4 separate regions of the Homo sapiens genome follow, and all the other regions are linked to region 2. Evidence: fine-mapped expression QTL. A gene starts in region 2. Each other region holds a variant in brackets. All regions are shown on one strand. Distances are from middle to middle. Region 1 has its middle 3.9 kb from the start of ZNF320. Region 2 holds the start of ZNF415 (zinc finger protein 415). Region 3 overlaps ZNF347 (zinc finger protein 347). Region 4 overlaps ZNF160 (zinc finger protein 160).

Region 1 (5,151 bases), 230 kb after region 2:
AGCGTGGCCTGATCACCCACAGCATGCCTGTATTGGCACTTTTGTCCTGGTTTTGACTTGGCTTTACTTAGTAAGACTAGTCTTTGGAACTTGCCCCACTCCATCTGAGTGGAAGCGTGGCCTGATCACCCACAGCATGCCTGCATTGGCACTTTTGTTCTGGTTTTGACTTGATTTGAATTGTTAGATACTTTAGTTTTGGTTTTGACTTGGCTTGAATTTTTTAGTACTCAGATTTTGAATTTCATGATTTTGGTTTGGTATAAACGGTAAAAGTGCGTGTGTGTGCCCTCTTTACCCATTCTTGTGGTGAGTATGTGTGGTGTGAGCATGGCATTTTGTCTCAGAAGAAAAAAAAAACATAGTTCAGGCACAAAGTAAGCCCACCCCACTAAGAAATATGTTAAAGAATTTCAAGAAAGAATTTAAAGGAGATTATGGTGTAACTGTGACCCCAGGAAAACTTAGAACTTTGTGTGAAATAGACTGGCCAGCATTTGAGGTAGGTTAGCCATCAGAAGGAAGCCTGGATGGGTCCCTAGTTTCAAAGATATGGCACAAGGTAACCTGTAAGCCAAGGCACCCAGACCAGTTTCAGTACACAGACAGTTACACCTGGTTTTAGACCTCCTCCCCCCGCCCCCCACAGTAGTTAAAAGAACAGCAGCATAAGTGGCTGGCAGAGGCAAGAAAAGACCAGCAGAGAGAAAAAGAGGCCATCTATACCAATTCTAAGTTAATTTAGACTAAACAAGGTCTTATTAATAGCAAAGGATAATTGAAGTCCCAAACTTACAAGGTTTTCAACAAAAGTGAAGTTTGCTAAAAGTTAACAGCGTAGCATGTATTATAGTAACTTCTAATCTGGTAGCCTTAGACAGTCTAGTCCAAAGACATAAAGTTTGCTTTAAAAAATTTTTTTATGCAAAAAATGTATAATTTAAAAGTAATAAGGCCTCCTATTATTGAAGAAACAGTTTATGTACAAGGTGTATAAGAAAAGTAAAATATACCTATAGTAAAAAGATTATAAGGAGGCATAAGAATGTGGATTTTTACCTATATTAAAAAGTTAAAAAAATTATTGTTTGAAAGTTTAAGCAAGTTTTAAAACATTAATTGTAAAGAAAATTCTGTGTGTAAACATATTAGCTAAAGTTAAAAAGGTATCATCCAGTTTTTCTGTGAAACGGACATCAAAGTAAAAATGCAACAGGTTTTTTCTTAAAGCATCAACCTGCTCTTTAACAAAAATTACAAAAAGTTAAAAAGAGTCTACAAAATCTAACCTTATGGTCAAACATGAAAAATTAGATAAATATGTCTACAAAGTTTCATTAAAATTAAATTTAACATTAGTAACACACTAATATAAAAGTAAAATTTAGCTTATCTGGTATAAAAATCATACAAGAAGCATTATTAAATATAAAATGGTGTTCAGCTTTCTTTGGTCTAAAAACTAATAAAAATCGGTGCTAAAGGAAGCATTCATTTTACTAGAGGATGATAGAAGTTAAAGACTTAAAACAAACTTTGGCAATTGAGACAGCATACCAAGATGCAAATGCCTGGTTGAAATAGATCAAATATTCCATCTGCACATTAAACAAAAGCAATTGTTATGCTTGTGCACATGGCAGGCCAGAGGCCCTGATTGTCCCCCTTCCACTAAGGTGGTCCTGTAGTTGACCAGGTGTGGGCTGCATGGTAGCTCTTTTCCAGGATTCTACAGCCTGGAGTAACATATAGCTCTCTCTGCTATATCCCGAAGTCCCTGCGGATCAGCCCCCGAGGGCCTTCCAGCTTCCGTCTCCCAATACTAAGTTCACTTCTTGTATCTCACGGCAGAGAGGAGATTTAGCATTCCTTGGAGACCTGAAAGGATGCAGTGAGCTTAAGAATTTTCAAGAGCTTATCAATCGGTCAGCCCTTGTTCATCTCTGAGCAGATGTGTGGTGGTATTGTAGTAGACCTTTAGTAGGCACTCTGCCGAATAACTAGAGTGGCACTTATGGTTTAGTCCATTTCACCCTGGTATTTCATCAACCAGAAAAAAAAAAAAGAAAAACTCATGTCAGCCCCAGCCCTGAGGCTACCTGACCTGACAAAACTCTTTGCACTCTATGTGTCAGAAAGAAAAAAAAAAATGGCAGTTGAAGTTTTAACCCAGACTGTAAGGCCCTGGCCAAGGCCAGTAGCCTGACTCTCAAAACAACTAGACGAGGTTTCCCAAGGCTGGCCCCCATGTCCAAGGGCCCTGGCAGCAATGGCCCTGTTAGCACAAGAAGCAGATAAGCTAACTCTTAGGCAAAACATAAACATAAAGTCCCTTTAATAAATAACAAAAGACATCATTAGCTAATAAACGCTAGACTAACTAGATACCAAAGCTTGCTCTGTGAAAATCCCCACATAACCATTGAAGTTTGCAACACCCTAACCCCGCCACCTTACTCCTAGTATCAAAGAGCCCAGTTAAACATAACTGTTTAGAGGTGCTGGACTCAGTTTATTCTAGTGGGCCCAACCTCTGAGACCACCCTTAAACATCAGTAGACTAGGAGCTGTACGTAGATAAGAGCAGCTTCGCCAACCCCTGCAAAGTGACTCTGAAGAAGA[T/C]GACAAGCCCTGCTGCAGTCACACCCGGAAGCTGACTGGTCCACGCACGACTGAAGCAGGAAGAAACTCATCGCAGGACTCATTTTCCTTAAAATTTAGACTTGTACAGTAAGGACTTCAACTGACCTTCCTCAGACAAAGAACTGTTTCCAGTATCTACATCAAGTCACTGAAGTTAGACAAAAGATTGCTACAGTCCTATTATTTTATAGTTATTATAAGTGTACCAGGATTCTAAAAGAAATTTGTTTGTATAATGCTATTCTATCCAAAGTATGTAGCCCAAGGAATAACCAACCTGATGTGTGTTATAACCCATTTTAAGCCTCCCATGATTACAGTTTTTAAAATAAAATTAAAGACTAGTCTTTTTCTAAGTGACACAAGTAAAATAATAGCTAGAACAGAAGAGGGGTCCCCAAAAATATAACCTTAAAATTTGATGCTTGTGCCACTATTGATAGTAAGCAGCATAGAATAAGATGCAGTTCTCTAAATTAGAAAAAAAGTTACACAGTTAAAAAAAAAAATAAGTATATCTGTCAAGAATCATATTTATGTGAGATGTGTCAATACTAGTCTTATGTCATTTGGGCTACTTAAAAAGAAGATAAAAATAATCCTGTTTAGCTCCAAAAAAGAAAAGTCAGCCCCTCTTGCATGAGTGGGGGCTGCAGCCTTTTAAAATTGATAATCACAAACCCATCAGACCCAAAGTACAATTAAAAAAAAAATGTAAATTAAGCATTGATGAAAAAAAACTAGATCCTAGCGTAAACATCCTAATAAAAAAAGAAGTTGAAAAATGCTCTCCAGAACCAGTATTTCAGGCTTTCTATGATGAAATAAATGTGCCAGTACCTAAGATTCCAGGAAAAACTAAAAATTTGTTTTTGCAATTAGCCTAACATGAGGCCCAGTCTCTACAAGTCACCTCATGTTATGTTTGTAGAAGAACTGTAACAAGAGATCAATGGCCATAGGAAGCCCGAGAATTAGTTCCTACAAACCCAGTTCCTGATGAATTCCCAGCCCAAAAGAACCACCCTGACAATTTTTAAGTTCTAAAAGTCTCAATTATTAGACGGTATTGCATAGCTAGAGAAAGAAAAAAATTCACTCATCATCCTGTAAGGCGGCTTAGTTGTCTTAGGCAAAAGTTGTATAATAGTACCACAAAAACAGTTACATACTAAAGTTCCAGTTACACAAAAAGAAATCCATTCAGTAAATTTCCAAAGTTGCAGACTGTTGAGGCCCACCCGGAATTCCACCAGGACTAGACGGCCCCCACCAGGTTATACCAGATACATAGACAGAGCTCATGCTAAGCTGCCTGATCAGTGGACAGGTAGCTGTGTAATTGGCACCAGTAAGCCATCTTTCCTCTTACTGCCCATAAATACAGGTGAACTTCTAGGCTTCCCAGTCTATGCTTCCTGTGAAAAACGAAGCATAGCCATAGGTAATTAGAAAGATGATAAATGACCTCCTAAAGAATTATATAATACTGTAAGCCTGCCACTTAGACACAAGACAGCTCATGAGGTTATCGAACCCCCATCTACATGCTCAACCGAATCATACAGTTGCAAGCTGTTTTAAAAATTATTACTAATAAAACCGGTCAAGCCTTGACTGTTCTTGCCCGGCAAGAGACTCTGATAAGAAATGCTATCTATCACCGGGCGCGGTGGCTCACGCCTGTAATCCCAGCACTTTGGGAGACTGAGGCGGGCAGATCACAAAGTCAGGAGATCAAGACCATCCTGGCTAACACAGTGAAACCCCGTCTCTACTAAAAATACAAAAAATTAGCCGGGTGCGGTGGCAGCACCTGTAGTCCCAGCTACTAGGGAGGCTGAGGCAGGAGAATGGCGTGAACCCGGGAGGTGGAGCTTGCAGTGAGCTGAGACTGCACCACTGCACTCCAGCCTGGGTGACAGAGCGAGACTCCATCACCAAAAAAAGAAAAAGAAATGCTATCTATCAAAATAGACTAGCTCTCGACTACTTGCTAGCAGCTGAAGGAAAAGTTTGTAGAAAATTTAACCTTACTAATTGTTGTCTACACATAGATCATCAGAGGAAAGTAGTTGAAGACATAGTTAAAAATATAACAAAACTGACACATGTACCCGTACAGGTGTGGCACGGACTCAATCCAGGAGCCATGTTTAAAAATTAGTTCCCAGCAATAGGAGGATTTAAAACTCTTATAATAAGAGTTATAATAGTAATAAAAAGCTGCTTACTGCTCTCTTGTTTGCTACCTGTACCTCTTCAAATGATAAAAAGCTTCATCGCTACCTTAGTTCACCAAAATGATTCAGCACAAGTGTACTATATGAATCACTATCAATCTATTACACAAAAAGACATAAGTAGCAAAAACAAGAGTAAGAACTCCCACTAATAAAAAGTGAGACTCTCAAAAAGAAGAAATAAAGGAAGACAGAGACCCTCTCATATTGTTTTATACTCAGTACCTGTTTTAAGAAAAAACAACAAGAAAGTAAAACCAAAGAC
Region 2 (5,151 bases):
AGACTCATCTTGTCACATTTCAGTAAGAGGCAGAATCGAGATTTGAATCCATGTTGTCTGGTTGCAAAGACAAAGCTTTTAATGATGATGCTACAGTAACAATGCTAGTTATTTTTGTCCTTTACTCACCATCTATACCTATTTTGTTAGTATCTCTTGTAATTTTTAAATGGTTTATCTTCATATATCATTGTGATTGTGGTAACTTTGTATTAAATCTATATTTTTATAGATCAATTAAGTCTATATTTTATAGATCACTATTGCGTATGCATCTTACCTAAATGAATGACAGAGACACTCATTACCACATAATCCTGTAAGAACGATTATCCAATCTTTCGAAGGAGGCATCCAGTACCTGAGGTGTTAGTTCTAGTGGTGGCCAGGCGCTGTAGCTCACCCCTGTAATCCCAGCACTTTGGGAGGCCAAGGGGGGTGGATCTCCTGAGGTCAGGAATTGGAGACCAGCCTGGCCAACATGGTGAAAACCCATCTCTACTAAAAATACAAAAAATAGCTGGGTGTGGTGGCGCGTGCGTGTGGTTGAAGCTACTCAAGAGGCTGAGGCAGGAGAATCGCTTGAGCCTGGGAGGTAGAGGTTACAGTAAGCTGAGATCACACCACCGCACTCCAGCCTGGGTGACAGAACAAGACTCTGTCTCAAAAAAAAAAAAAAATCACTAATAATGACAAAGTGCATATTTCTTGAGCTGAGAATATTTTTGTATCTGTGTTTCCATTGTTCGTTTCCAAAAACAATTACAGGTTGCTAATACACATCAACTGGACTGTTCAGTAGAAGCTCCTGTGTTTCTCATGATCTCTGACAGCATCCAGGGGTTCACATGGAGAAAGCAGAATATGCTGAGGTCTGAGATTTGATGGATGGTGATGTTGGAAATCTTTTTATGTGCCCATTTATCTCAGTATATCTGCTTCAGTGAAATGTCTCTTCATAGTTCTATCCATTTTCTAATTTGATTATTTTGCTTTTTTTTTAAGTCGTTCTAGGATTCTTTATACATTCCACATACCAGTTTTATGTCAGATATATGGTAGGCAAATATTTTCTATTATTCAGTACTGTATTAGTCCATTTTCACACTGCCTAAACCCTCCTGTGACAACCTGAGACTGGGTAATTTATAAACAAAAGAGGTTTAATTGACTCACAGTTCCGCATGGCTAGGGAGCCCTCAGGAAACTTACAATCATAGAGGAAGGCAAAGGCGAAGCAAGGCACGTCTTGCTTGCAGCAGGAGAGAGAGCGATCAAAGGAGGAACTATCACAGATTTTTAAACCATGAGATCTCCTGAGAGCTCACTATCATGAGAACGGCTTGGGGAAAACCACCCCCATGATCCAGTCACCTCCCACCAGGTCCCTCCCTCAACACCTGAGGTTTATACTTGAAAATGAGATTTGATGGGGACACTGAGCCAAACCATATCAAATACCTTTTCTTTCATCGTCTGAAGGTCTTTCACAGACCAAAAGTTTTTAATTTGGTAAATACCAGTTGATTTTTTTTTTCTTTAATGAATCATGCTTTTGCTGCTATGGCTAAGAATTTTTGAACAAGCTCTTGATTCTTACGATTTTATTGTGAGTAATTTTTTCTTTCAGTCTCCTACAGGATACCATTTTATGGTTTGATATTTTACATTTAGGCTATGGTCAATGTTGAACTAATGTCTGTACGGTTGTGAAGTTTGAGTAGAGATGACTTCTTTCCTGCTGTGGATATTAAGTTAGCCCCTCACCAGTTTTTAAAAATTCTTCATTCAATTCCCTTGGTAACTTTGTCAAAAATCAGTTGGAAGTACCTGTAGAGGCTATTTTTGTACTCTCTTACTGTATTGCATCAATCCATATGTCTTTTATTGCCCCAAAACCACACAGTTTTTATTACCTTTCCTATATTGGTAGTCTTGAAATCCAGTGGAGTGATTCCAGACACTTCATTTTTGTTTTTTGGTAACTTTTATGGATCCAATCACTGCTAGTTTTGGATTCCCCACCGAAATCCCAGTTCCCGGACTGCTAAGCTGCAGGAGACTCCCTAGCAGGATCGGGTCCAACCTGCAGGCAAAATAGTTTTAACATAAACCGTTTTCAACTTGGTAAGTGGAAAACATTTTGGTTTCCACCATAAGTGGCCCACACAACTCTGATTTTTTTACCTTAAAGCGGCGCAGACCCCGCCCACTCCAGCCATTCCTTCAGGCTGCCCGGGCTCTTCTCTCCGCGCATGCGCAGTTTCCTACAGGCCCGGAAACGGATCGCGTTGGGTGAAGGTGACGGCGTCGAGCGTGAGTGACCCTCTGTGTAGATTAAACCTGCGCTCCCTGTTTCCCATTTCCACAGCCGATGTCCAGGGTCGATACGGCCCTTAAAATCCCCGTACACTCCACCCCAGGTGAATACAGGCCTCGCAGTGTGGGTCCGGAGTCGCTTCCCTTTGGGTTGAAGTCGCTTTGAGGCTGCTCCCCGTCCCCGGCCTTTTGCTTCTTCCTCCCGCTTAAAACCTTTTCCTGACCCCCTCCCCCATCCCCGGGCTTTTTAAAGTCTTCACCCAAGAGGTGTATTCCCGTCCTGGGTGCCTCCCAGCCTTGCCCTCGTCGGCCCCTGGAGCGCAGCGCCGCAGCTGCAGCCGCAGTCCCGGGGAGCCTTGCGTCCTCTGCCTGGTCCTGGGATCCTGCAGACCCCACCCCTGTCTGAAGGCGCTGTCGCGCCCCACCTCCCTCCTCCTCGTGCCGGGCCCCGCTGCTCCCCAGGCCTCCCCTGAGCCCGCGCTGGGGAGGTGCTCAGGGCCTGTCCTGTGACACCCGATGTTCTTGCCTGCCCTCCTCCACCCCGTGGAAAATGCGCTCCTCCAGGATGCAGGCGTCTTACCCCAAACCGTCCTGTGAATGTGTGGGCCAAAGGGATCGAGGGACAGAGAGAGCAGTAGAAAACCTGAGACAGGAAGGAATGAGGCAAACCAATAAACAGATGGCAAAGTAGAGGATGGTTAGAGATTTTCAGAGACAGTAAGAGTGGAAGAAGAAGCCGAGAAAGTAGCAGGGAGAGAAAAGTAACTAGACACATTTCGAGAAAAAGCACAGTATCCAGAGAGATGAAGGACAGCCAGGTAGGGAGAGGGGCAGCAAAGGAGGAGGCTCCTCAGACAGAGAGTGGGGGAGAGCAGAAGGGATTTGGAGCCAGGGCAGACAGGGCAGTGTGGTACCGGGACAGCAAGAGGGGGCAGCCGATGACAAGGAGAAGCAGAGGGAGAACCACAGCACGGGGAGGCCTGGGATCTGGGGGTGCCAAAGAGTGGGGACAACGGTGTGTAACAGGGAAGAGGGAATTTAACAGGGAGTGCTGAAATGGGGAAGAAAGAGCCAGAAATATGTGGAGACTGGGACAATGAAAAGATTAGGAAGAAAGAGGAATTAAATACATTGCAAGAATGGAAAGAGCAAGTGGAAGAGAAAGAATAGAGGGAAGACGGGGAGGAGCAGCAGGAGAGGAGAGGGGCTCAAAATGAGCAGAATCCTAGGGAGAAAATAAAGGGGAAGGAAAGAGCTAGAGAAAGAAGGTGAGAATGAGAGCGATGTACGGAACGAGGGAGGGAAACACACCATAATGAGGAAAGAGGGGGACCCCAGGTCCAGGTGAGTTGTGAACTGACTGGATGTGATGACTACCTTTTGACCTGTTGATTTCTGTCTTTATAAGTTTAAAATGCACAGATGATGAGAATTGCAAAGCTCCTGTCTATTAAGGCTGGTGCATTTTATAATTATGGCATCAGAAGTTAGCTTCCACTTGCAATCCCTGTTAAGGCAGAGGGAAGTGACTTGACTCATTAATTCCACAGGTCATCCTCTTCCCCTTCCCTGGCGTTGGGGCAGGGGGAGGGGAAGGGGGAGTGGGAGAGTAAAGCTGGGCAGAAAGTGAAAGACTGTCACTACATAGTGTCTCTCTAAAGCAGGGGTGTCCAATCTTTTGGCTTCCCTGGGCCACATTGGAAGAAGAATTGTCTTGGGCCACACATAAAGTACACTAACACTAACAATAGCTGATGAGCTAAAAAAAAAAAAAAAAAAAAAAAAAAAAGTTGCAAGAAAATCTCAAAATGTTTTAAGGAAGTTTAGGAATTTGTGTTGGGCTGCATTCAAAGCCTTCCTGGGCTGCGGATTGGACAACGTTGCTCAAAAGGAACATTAAAAGTGTTGAGGCTGGGCATGGTGGCTCATGCCTGTAATCCCAGCACTTTGGGAGGCCGAGGTGGGTGAATCACAAGGTCAGTAGTTCAAGACCAGCCTGGCAAAGATGGTGAAACCCCATCTCTACTAAAAATACAAAACTTAGCCAGGTATGGTGACACGCATCTGTAATCCCAGCTACTCAGGAGGCTGAGGCAAAGCATTGTGTAAACCCGGGAGGCGGAGGTTGCAGTGAGCCAAGAGCCGAGATCCGGTGACAGAGCAAGACTGCGTCTGAAAAAAAAACAAAGAACAAACAAAAAAAGTGTTGTTGCTTTTTGTAATTGATTTGCTTTTTTTCTTACTAATTCCCTTTCATCTCATGTATAGTTCATTTTGCAACTTGAGATAGATCTTCATTAATTCAGTTTCTATTTTTCTGTATATAATTATTTCCAAAGTAACTTTGGTGGCATCCTATAATCAGCTCATGGCATTTTCTAAATATAATGTGTTTTCAATTTTTTTAGCTCCAAAATTCATCAGATATTTCTTAACAATTTCAAAATCTTTCCCTTTGAAATTAATTGTGTCCAGTTTTGATAGAGGTCTGCATGCTTTCTGCTCTTTATTATATAATAGAAGCATTATTTGTTGACTAGTAGGTAATTTTAGATTGTTTCAATGTGTACCTGATAAAGATGTCAATGATGTTTTTACCTTAACATGGAAACCTAGTTTAACTAGTCTATTATTCAATTTTCTTCTTTTGTGTAATTTGTTAAAATAGTAAGCTGTGAGCTGCATTTGGAACCAATGTGATAAAACCTTGAAGAAGTTTCTTTTGCTCAGATATGTGAAAGAGGGTCTGGGAATTTTCTTTTTTTCTTTTCTTTTTTTTTTTTTTTGTGAGCTGGAGTCTTGCTCTCTCACCCAGGCTGGAGTACAGTGGTG
Region 3 (5,151 bases), 23 kb before region 2:
CCCTTTCCTGACCCCTCCTCCCGCCCCGGGCTTTTTAAAGTCCTCGCCCGCGAGGTGGATTCCCGCCCTGGGTGCCTCCCAGCCTCGCCCTCGTCGGCCCCTGGAGCGCAGCTCCTCAGCCCCGGTACCGGCGAGGCCGCGTCCTCTGCCTGGTCCTGGCATCCTGCAGACCCCACCCCTCTTCTAAGGCGCCGTCGCCCCGCCACCTCCCTCCTCCTCGTGCCGGGCCCTGCTGCTCCCCAGGCCTCCCCTTCGCAGTCCCCGCTTCTCCTGAGCCCGCGCTGGGGAGGTGCCCGGGGCCTGTCCTGTGACACCCGGTGTTCTTGCCTGCCCAGCTCCAGCCCCTGGAAAATGCGCTCCTCCAAGATGCAGGCGTCTTAGTCCAAACCTTCCTGTGAATGTGTGGACCAAGGGGATTAGCAGGTAGAGAAAGGGGCAGAGACAGAGAGAGAAGTAGAAAAACTGAGAGGAAAGAGTGAGGGAAACCCGTAACCAGATGGCAAAGTAGAGGATGGGCGAGGGATTTGCAGATGGTAAGAGAAGGAGCTGAGAAGGCAGAAGGAGAAAAGCAACTGGGGAAATGTAGAGAAAAGCTCGATGTCCAGAGACATGAAGGACAGCAAGGTAGGGAGAGGGCCAGAAAGTGGGAGGCTCCTCAGACAGAGTCCGGGAGAGGAGGAGGGATTTGGAGCCAGGGCAGACAAGCAGCGTGGTGCTGGGACAGCAAGAGGGGACAGCCGGTGACGAGGAGAGCAGAAGGAGAACCACAGCAGGGGGAGGCCTGGGATCTGGGGGTGCCAGAGAGTGGGGCAAGAGGTGTAGAAGGGAAGAGGAGATTCAACAGAGGGAGCAGAGATGGGAGAAGAAAGAGGCAGAAATATATGGAGACTGGGGACAATGAAAAGACTGGGGAGAAAGAGGAATCAGAGTTGAAACAAGGCCCCAGAATGGGACAGAACAGGTGCAAGCGGAGGAAGAAGGGGAGAAATAGCAGGAGATGAGAGGGGCTCAGAACGACGCGCAAAGAACCAGGGGAAAAACACAGAAAATAAAAAATAAGCTAATGTGAGAATGAGAGCTATGTAGAGGATGAGGGAGGGAAACACACAGTATGGAAGCAAGAGAGGGACCCTGAGTCCAGGTGAGTGGTGCGTTGATTAGATGTGATGATGACATTGTGACATTGGTTTCTGGGTTTAAAATAATGCAACACATTTAAAATACGTTTACTTAAATTATGCAGTTGCAAATGAGAATGGAAGAAACTCCTTTATGTAAAATGCGTAACACGTGCATTTGACAATTATTAGTATTAGGGTATAGCTTCATTTGCAATCACTATTCAAACCAGAGGGCAGTGACTTCGCTCATTTAGTTTTGAGTCCACCCACTTCCCTTTTCCTGGAATAGGGTAGGGTGTGGGCGAGTGTATGAACTAAGAGGAAAAAATATTTTTCCTTTGATTTTCTTTCCTGTCACACTCAATACAACAGGGCACATTCTACACAGTGTCTCGCCTCCACTCACGAAAATGTGTGCGGATTTCTCCCACCAACAACCCGTTCTCTATCAGACACTAACTGAGTGTCGTATAGTTTAACTCAATTCTGAAACTCTCTACCTGGAGTTAGCATCAGATCCCACTGATTGAGGCTCAGTTCCACGAAATTGCCCCCGCATCAGGTGCCAGTTGTAAGTCTCCCGTTGGTACCTGAACTTCTGAGCGACCAGCTATACACTGGGGATTCCCTTGACATCCCCCTCCCCACCACCTCAGGTTCTATTAATTTGTGAGGGCGGCTCAAAGAACTCAGGGAAAACACTTCACTTAGTTTACACATTTGTTATGAAGGATATTACAGAAGATACAGATGAACAGTCAGAAGGAAGAGCTGTCCTAGAAAGTTAATCAAAGCCGAGGAGGGGTTAAGAGAACCACAGTATTTATCAGGTCACTCAAAAGTATAAGTGACAGTTACCACTGGCATACTGTGTCTGAAGTGAGGGGCAGTTTTAGACTGAGCTCTGAACCTGTAGCACCTCGTCATGCAGTCTTTTTTTTTTTTTCTTTTTGAAACAGTCTCGCTCTGTTGTCCAGGCTGGAGTGCAGTGGCGCAATCTTGGCTCAAGGCAGCCTCTGCCTCCCGAGTTCAAGCGATTCTCCTGCCTGCCTCAGCCTCCCAAGTAGCTGGGATTACAGGTGTGCACCACCACATCCAGCTAATTTTTGTATTTTTAGTAGAGACGAGGTTTTGCCATGTTGGCCATGCTGGTCTCTAACTCCTGGCCTCAAGTGATCCTCCTGCCTTGGCCTCCCAAAGTGCTGGGACTACAGGCATGAGCCACTGTGCCCGGCCCATGCTGTCTTGTAGATAATATCAGAGTTGAATGAAATTGTAGGACCCCCGCCTAACCCCCCCCCCCCCCCGAGCTGGGAGTCCCCTGGGAGTCCCCTGGTCATTGTGGGAAAAGCCACACACACATTTTGGTGACTAGAGGTGAAGTATTCTGTGTTTAGTGTGAGAGCAGAATGTAGAGTTGGGTTTTTTCCTATCTCAAAGACTAAAGGAAAAGACCTCCAAGTGGCCCACCCACCTGTCAGGACCTGTGATCTCTACTCAGTAGTGACTGGGAATGGCCTGTTCCTGCTTCTGGCTGCTGCTGGCCCTGCAATTGTGTACCATGTACCAGCCTCACTCACAGTCTCAGGACAATATGCGTGCCATCAATTTTAACTTTTTTTTTCCTTCACAATCTGTAAAGCTTTCAAAATTTTAACTTCAAGGGAATTCATCCCTGTACCTAGGGAGTGGTGTTCTCCATTAAGACACGTACACAGGGCT[G/T]GGCACAGCGGCTTACACCTGTAATCACAACACTTTCAGAGGCCAAGGTGGGAGGATTGCTTGAGTCCAGGAGTTCGAGACCAGCCTGGGCAACATAGCAAGACTCCGTCTCTACGAAAAATAGAAAAAAATAAGCTGGATGTGGTGGCTTGCACCTGCGCTCCCAGCTACTTGCAAGGCTGAGGTGAGAGAATCGCTTGAACACGAGAGCTTGAGGCTGCAGTAAGCCATGTTCATGCTGTCACACTCTAGCCTGGGCAACAGAGTGAGACCCTGTCTCAAAAACAAAAAACAAACACACACACACACACACACACACACACACACACACACACAGAATAAAGTCTTTTTTTCTTCTACGCTCCATCTTTAAAACAAAAAATACTCTAAATTGGCCAGGCACGGTGGCTGACGGCTGTAATCCCAGCACTTTGAGAGGCCAAGGCAGGTGGATCCCTTGAGGTCAGGAGTTCGAGACCAGCCTGGCCAACATGGTGAAACACTGTCTCTACTAAAAATACAAAAATTAGCCAGGCATAGTGGCACGCGCCTGTGATCCCAGCTACTCTGGAGGTTGAGGCAGGAGAATCGCTTGAACCTGGGAGGCGGAGGTTACGGTGAGCCGAGATCGCAACATTGCACTCCAGCCTGGGTGACAAGAGTGAGACTTCATCTCAAAAAAAAAAACAAAACAAAACTCTAAACTACCTTTCAGTCTGTAGTAAGTACTCTTCTATGCTCCGTTTAAGAGCACAATACACTACAATTTTTTTTTTTTTTACTTTATGTTCAATTCTTGCCTTCAGTCCTTGCTTGAACTCTTGCTTGAATCAAGCTCTCATACCCAACATTCCACTGATCCTTTCTTTTTCATTTACCAGTGATGGATCCATTTGAAATTCAATGTTTAATTTCCTGTCATCTTTCCATTCCTATCAGTAGCATGTGGCACAGTTGCTCACTTTCTCTTCTATTTTCTTGGCTTTTAGGACATCCCGTTAAGCTTTACACATCTATTTGTTGTAATTTTCTTGTTGCCTCCCTAATCACATTATGCTTTCCTCTTCTTGTGTCTCCAGAACTTTCTGTTCTCTGAACGTGGGCTTAGTCCTCCAGCCACTTTTTTCTCTGTCCGCACTCATTGCCTTTCCTTATCAACTCAGCTCATGGCTTTCAACCCCACCTGCACAGCTTCATGTCACCTGCAGGCCTCTCCTGTGAACTCTAGATCCAGCATCTAGGCCTCCCAAAGTGCTGAGGTTACAAGACGTGAGTGACCGTGCCTGGCTAAATTTATTACTTTTTTTTTTTAAGAGAAATGGGGTCTCACTATGTTGTTTAGGCTGGTCTTGAACTCCTGGCCTCAACTGATCTTTCTGCCTCAGCCTCCCAAAGTGCTAGGATTATAGTGTGAGCCACCACGTTCAGCCTCTACCTTTTGTTTCTGAGGCCTGAGATTGGCCTGCAATCCACAGAGAGGTGAGGGAGGCTGTTCTCTGCATGGGGTTTGGTCAGGGCTTGGTCTGTGCCCTGAATGGGGGAGCTCAGTCCAGCCCAGCTCCCAATTGCTGCAGCGTGTGTGTGGGCTTCTCCAGGAGGAGAGTGGGTTCTGAAGAAAGGGGTCAGAAACTCACTTATTGATCTTCCCATAGGAGCTTCTTGTCCCTGCATTGCCCTGGTGCAGTGGGCAGCTGAGACCATCTTTCCACAGGGTGAGGTCTTCCCTGTGTGTGTGTGTGATTGTGGCATAGGAAGGGGATGTGTTGATTCTGAGCAATAAACAGCACATTTTGGATATTCAATATTGACTTCTAAAGGCACTTTCCTGTTACCTAAGGAAGAACCCTTGAAGAAGAGGAAGAGGAAAGAAAGACAAGTCAGGCATGGCTCTCACCCAGGTAAGGTAATATTATCAGTGGATTGTTCTGTCTCTTATTTCTTCTTGAAATGTCATTCTTTGAAGTTGGGAATCTTCTCTGAGTCTGAAGCGTCCTGCCTGACAGGTTTGCTCGCACTTACGCGTGCCTTCCCTCAGTCCCTCTCATCTCACTTAGATTCCATCTCTCGTGACCCAGTGACATGAGCTTGGGAAGAGGCTGCACTGGGCATGGTCCTGGGAAGGGCTCACACCCAGACATGGATGGAGACGGGGTGAGGGTCCTGTGGTGTCAGTGCTGTTGGGCAGCAGGGATTGTTCAGGGGCCACATCTGGATGCACTGTCAGCTCTCTGTGGAGCAGGATTAGAGCAGCTGCACGTGGAAGTCACGTGTTAATGTGCACAAATACTTGCTAAATTATGTAAAATAA
Region 4 (5,151 bases), 37 kb after region 2:
ATAAGCTTTCAGTTGTGTTTTGGAAGATGAAATGATCATTTGGAGTGTTTCCTTTCCTGATGTTGGGGTCTAATTGCATCATTAGAGACATCTCTGTTTTATTGGTAGGTTTCAGTGGTATTCCCCTGTGGGGTGGAGTCACTATGAGTGGAAATACGTTGCCCTGGGTCAGTGAGTTCCTGGGGTGTTTGTGTATATTATTCCATGAGTTACTGGGGCTTGTGAGATTTCATAACAGGGCTTCTGGATCTTTATGAAGTATCTGGGGATTGTGGGATCTTTATGAAGTATATGGGGAGTGTGGGAGTTTGTAAGCGTGTCTGAGTCCAGAGGGCAACGGGGATCCTAAGAATCAGGCGCAGATGGCTTTCATTAGGGAGGGTTTGTTGTGGGGGCGTCTGTGGGTGCAACTCAAGAGGGAGTGATTATCAGGGTCCCAGAGTAAGGGAAAGATTTCTCCAAGAATCAGAGTGAAACACAGCACACTGACCTGCGGCCCAAAGGCTTCCACTGGGACTGTCCTTGGGAAGATAAAGCTGCCACATTCTTGCAGCCAGGCCGGTGGCCTCTCCCTGTTTATTCCAAGATAACAGAGTCACAGAGTCACAAGGCAGCTGGGGAGCTGAGGGGCAAGGTCCTTGAAACCCGCTGTGGAACATGGACCTTTCTCCAGTGCAGAGGGGCCACGGGGCCCTGGGAAGGGAGTTGGAGGGTTACAGCCCTGGTCATGGCAGGGAGACGCAGGAACTGGAGGCAGGAAGAGCTGTGTTCATCCCCACAGGGTGCCCCTCCGCTCAGGAATTTGTGCAATAGAATGGGGTGAGCTAATGGGGTCACATTTAGGGAAAGGAGTCTTTCTGTCCACCCAACACACATCTCATCCTATGCACACGCTTCTCCCTTTCCCCGTTGTCCTCTCTATGATGGGAAACTAATGCTTCCCCAGGCGGGTGATTGAGGGAGAGGACGGGTTGGTCTGTTTGTCTCTCTCCTTTCTCCCCTCCCTCAGGTCTCCTGCCTGCCTTTCTGCTGCTCTGTTCAGACTCTCACTTCCTGCAGTTCTGCAGTCAGTTTGCCCCACGCAAGACCCAAGGATCTGGGTCTGTGAATAATATTCAAGCCAACATCATTGCCAAGTGAGAAATCTTAGACCCCAGGACCTTTTTTCCATGGAGGGGCCTGGGCACAGAGACAAACTCTTCTTTTTGCAGAATTTAGGGTCTTTTATTGGCCACGTGGGTCTGCTGAGCCTCAGACAGGGATCCCATAGTCAGCCAGATGTGTTTCTGGGTGGACTTGCGCTTGCCCTTCCACAGGTTGGTAAGCAGAGTGGTCTCCATGAAGGGCCCTTGGCTCTGCCCCTCAGTTAGTCCTGCTCAGCTCCCTTCTCACGAAAAAGACCACCCCAAGGACAAACATGCAGTCCACCCCTGCATACATCAGTCTCCCAAAGTGAAGACCATAAAAATGGCCTAATATTTCATTCATTCATTCAGTTATTTATTTATTTTGAGACGGAGTCTCGTTCTGTCTCCCAGGCTGGAGTGCAGTGGTGCGATCTCAGCTCACTGCAACCTCTGTCTCCTGAGTTCAAGCAATTCTCCTGCCTCACCCTCTGGAGTAGCTGGGACTACAGGCATGTGCCACCACTCCTGGGTCATTTTTTTGTATTTTTAGTAGAGACAGGGTTTTACCATGTTGGTCAGCTGGTCTTGAACTCCTGACTTCATATGATCTGCCCACCTCGGCCTCCCAAAGTGCTGGGATTACAAGCATAAGTCACCGCACCTGACCATATATCATTTCCTTTTAATTATTTACTTATTTAATTTTTACTACACTCCCATTTTAGCAATACTAATATTTCATTTAATGTTGCTATTATTATTTACTGTTATTGAGACAGAAGCTTTGTGTTAGACGCTGATCTCATGTAACGTGACTCTTTTATAATTGTGCTTAGGATTCCACGGGAGATGAGTGAATAAACGACTGAACATTGTGCATAAACAGACAATTTATATATTCATAAGATTAAGACATTTTGTATTCCTCATCCGTTATGCAAAGCAAAGACTAGACACTCTGGAGTCATCTCTCATGAGAACAAACCTGCGGACAGCTGGGAAGCACACCAGCCACCAACTGGGAGTATTAAAAAGAGCAATCCAGTCTCCAAATCAAGGGGAGGGTTCAAATCATAGACAAGCTGCAGAGCCACCGGGTCTCAGAGTTTCCCGCGGAAACGCTGGGACTCGCTACCAATCCCATGAGCGCACCTGGGGATTTTAACGTCTGGTGGGATGGTGGATTCCGAGTGTGGTTGGACAGGGCTGGAGTGCCCTGAAAGGCCTGAATGCTCTCCTGCCGGTGAGAAAACTGGAAGCGGATTCTGGGAGGGAGCTGTCGCCAGCGAGAGGCGGGTCTTGGATAGTGGGGAGAGGCCAGGTGGGGAGGGTGGAAGCCACCGTGAGGTGGGGTCTGGGCAATGGGAAAGGGGTGCAAGAGGGTCGTGTGGGAGGGTGGAACTGCTGTGGGCGGGGCCTGGGCAGTGGGGAGGGGGCGGGGTGAGGAGGGTGAAAGTCGCCCTGGGGTGCGGTCTGGGCAATGGGAAAGGGGTGGAAGAGGGTGGGGTGGGAGGGTGGGACTACCGTGGGGGCGGGGCCTGGGCAGTGGGGAAGGGGTGGGGTGAGAAGGGTAAAAGTCGCCCTGGGCTGGGGTCTGGGCAACGGGAAAGGGCTGGAAGAGGGCGGCGGGATGGGAGGGTGGAAGCTGCTATGGTGCAGCCTGGGCTGTGGGAAGCGGGCAGGGCCGGGAAAGGAGCGGGCCTGGGCTCTCTACTCCTCTTGGCCCCAGGTCATTTTCTGCTATGTCAGCCTTTCTCTCCACTAGGACTGGATCAACAGCATTGCACTGCTAAAATAAAGTTTCAGCTAATTGAAATTAGCCGGGGATGCTTCCTGCTTATTTTCAGTTAATAAGCAGGGATGCTTCCGGCTTATTTTCAGTCCAGGGAC[G/A]CTTCCTGCTTATTTTCAGTTAATCCAACATTTCAAACAATTTAAGGCAAAAGAACAGAATGGTACTGGGCCACTTAATTGAAGGCTAAGGTTTTTTTACTCTTACATTGAAAACGATTTAAGTGAAAAACTCATTTTGTTTGCAGGTGGAGACAGGCATCCTACCATTAAGAGGATCACAACTCATCTTAGCTCAGGGTACCAGGAGGGGTGCAGGGGCATCAGCGGATGGTCCCTGTGGGGCAGTGGTTTCATCCTGGAACTGGCAATTAGAACCGTTTAATTAATCCGGGACCTGATTTGTCTGTTTAGAGGATGAAACGAAGGTGAAATTTCTACTTGTGCTGTGTTCAGTTTCATAGTGACAACGATCGGAACATCGTTTCCATTTCTATTTGCCAGGCACCGGGATGGAAGAAAGAGAACTCTGGGCTTAGGTCCAGGGGCGTTTCAAGGACCCTGGACCAGGGTGTGTGGAGGAACGGTATCTGGTAATTTAGGTCGCCAACCATTCCCTTAAACATAAAGAATACTTTTTAAAATAGAGGAATTATAGGGAAAATCTCAGAGATAAATTTCTGGGTTACCTTTGGTATTTTGGAGTATTTTGTGTTGTAGATCAAGAAGCTTTCGGATGCATTTTGGAAGATAAAATAGTTTGGAGTGTTACCTTGTATGATATCGGGGTCTCATTGGAGCATGTGCATCACTAATGCCTTGTTTCCTTATCTTTCAATTGTTGATCTATTACACAATTGTAAGGGAATTTTAAATGTATATGGCTTTGAAATGAAGTTGGTGCATCTCATTTTTTCAATTAGCTGAAATTTTCCTTTAGCAGTTAATGATGTCTCTTATGTGTGACAGGAACATTCAGTACACCCACAGTGAAGGCTGAGTGCCCTTCAAAGCTTTTTTCTTCTGTTTTTTGTTTTTTGAGACAGGCTCTGTCACCCAGGCTGGAGTGGTGCGATCATAGCTCACTGCAATCTCACACTCACTTCAGCCTCCTGAATAGCTGGGACTATAGACATGCACCACCACACCTGGATAATTTCTAAATTTTTTTGTATAGATGGGGTCTTACTATGTTGCCCAGGCTGGATTCAGTGCCGAGTCTCAAAGGCCAAGGTACCAGGGCAAGTTCATTAGTTTTGAGTTTCACTTGGTGTTATGTGTTGACAATGTAGAAGCCGATTTTGACCCTGTAATCCTAGCAGATAGCAAAGGTTAAGCCTCCCCCTTCCATCCTTTCTTCTTTTTTTTTGTTTTTTTAGATGGAGTCCTGCTCTGTTGCCCAGGCTGGAGTGCAGTGGCACGATCTTGGCTCATTGCAGCCTCTGCCTCCCAGGTTCAAGTGATTCTCCTGCCTCAGCCTCCCTAGTAACTGGGATAACAGGCGCTGCCACCGCGCCTGGCTAATTTTTGTATTTTTAGTAGAGACAACGTTTCACCATGTTGGCCAGGCTTGTTTTGAACTCCTGACCTCAGGTGATCCACCTGCCTCGGCCTCCCAAAGTGAAGTGCTGGGATTACAGGCATGAACCACCGTGCCCGGCCAGAAATATCCTTTTTAAATCTCTTGTGAATATGTTGATTTTGCTTCAATGAAAATGTATAAGCATTTAAACTCTGCATATACAAAATGGATTCATGGCTTTCATCTATAATCAGATTCACCCCTACTATTCTCAATTTAATGAAAAGATCCAAAATCAAATCATTTCTTTGCTTGGGATCATGGAAGTCCATGCTGAAACTGCTTTCTTGTCAACATAGGTACTTAGCAATATTGCGTAACACAGAGCAGTCTACCTTGCAAAAGTCCCCAAATCTATCCCAGACACCATATCTTTTGAAACTGTAGATGTAGTTGTGAAATATGCTATTTTTCCTGTCTAAACAATTGTATTTTCAATTAATCACCACTTTTCCATTGATGAAATCTTCCACATGTGGGGATGTGAGAGGCAAACATACTTCAAAGTAGAGGTAAATTCACAGATGTTGCCATAAAATTATTGCTAGTAGATACGATGCCATTTAATATTTGATAATCTAGTTTTACTTTGTATAGGGTTCATATGAAGGAGAATATCCAGCCAGCATGGTAGCTCACGCCTGTAATCCCAGC

What was found. PIP is the estimated chance that this variant, and not a neighbour inherited with it, causes the effect.
Region 1: its variant is the best candidate, but not a certain one, in a credible set for the expression of ZNF415 in prostate (GTEx, PIP 0.68).
Region 3: its variant is the best candidate, but not a certain one, in a credible set for the expression of ZNF415 in whole blood (INTERVAL, PIP 0.56).
Region 4: its variant is the best candidate, but not a certain one, in a credible set for the expression of ZNF415 in whole blood (INTERVAL, PIP 0.68).

What each region holds. Positions count from the first base shown.
Region 1 is chr19:52,898,914-52,904,064 of GRCh38, reverse strand. It overlaps a transcript of ZNF320 not described here. Among named protein-coding and RNA genes, the nearest start is that of ZNF320, 3.9 kb to the right of the region's middle. The variant T/C (reference allele first, on the strand shown) is at 2,623.
Region 2 is chr19:53,130,021-53,135,171 of GRCh38, reverse strand. ZNF415 (zinc finger protein 415) reads left to right here and starts at 2,262. Exons shown (of 4, transcript NM_018355.4): 1 at 2,262-2,316. ZNF347 (zinc finger protein 347) reads left to right here. Exons shown (of 5, transcript NM_032584.3): 5 at 1-237.
Region 3 is chr19:53,153,323-53,158,473 of GRCh38, reverse strand. ZNF347 (zinc finger protein 347) reads left to right here. Exons shown (of 5, transcript NM_032584.3): 2 at 4,681-4,741. The coding sequence starts at 4,727. Among named protein-coding and RNA genes, the nearest start is that of ZNF347, 3.2 kb to the left of the region's middle. The variant G/T (reference allele first, on the strand shown) is at 2,844.
Region 4 is chr19:53,092,579-53,097,729 of GRCh38, reverse strand. All of the region lies in intron 1 of ZNF160 (zinc finger protein 160), which reads left to right. Among named protein-coding and RNA genes, the nearest start is that of ZNF160, 8.3 kb to the left of the region's middle. The variant G/A (reference allele first, on the strand shown) is at 3,018.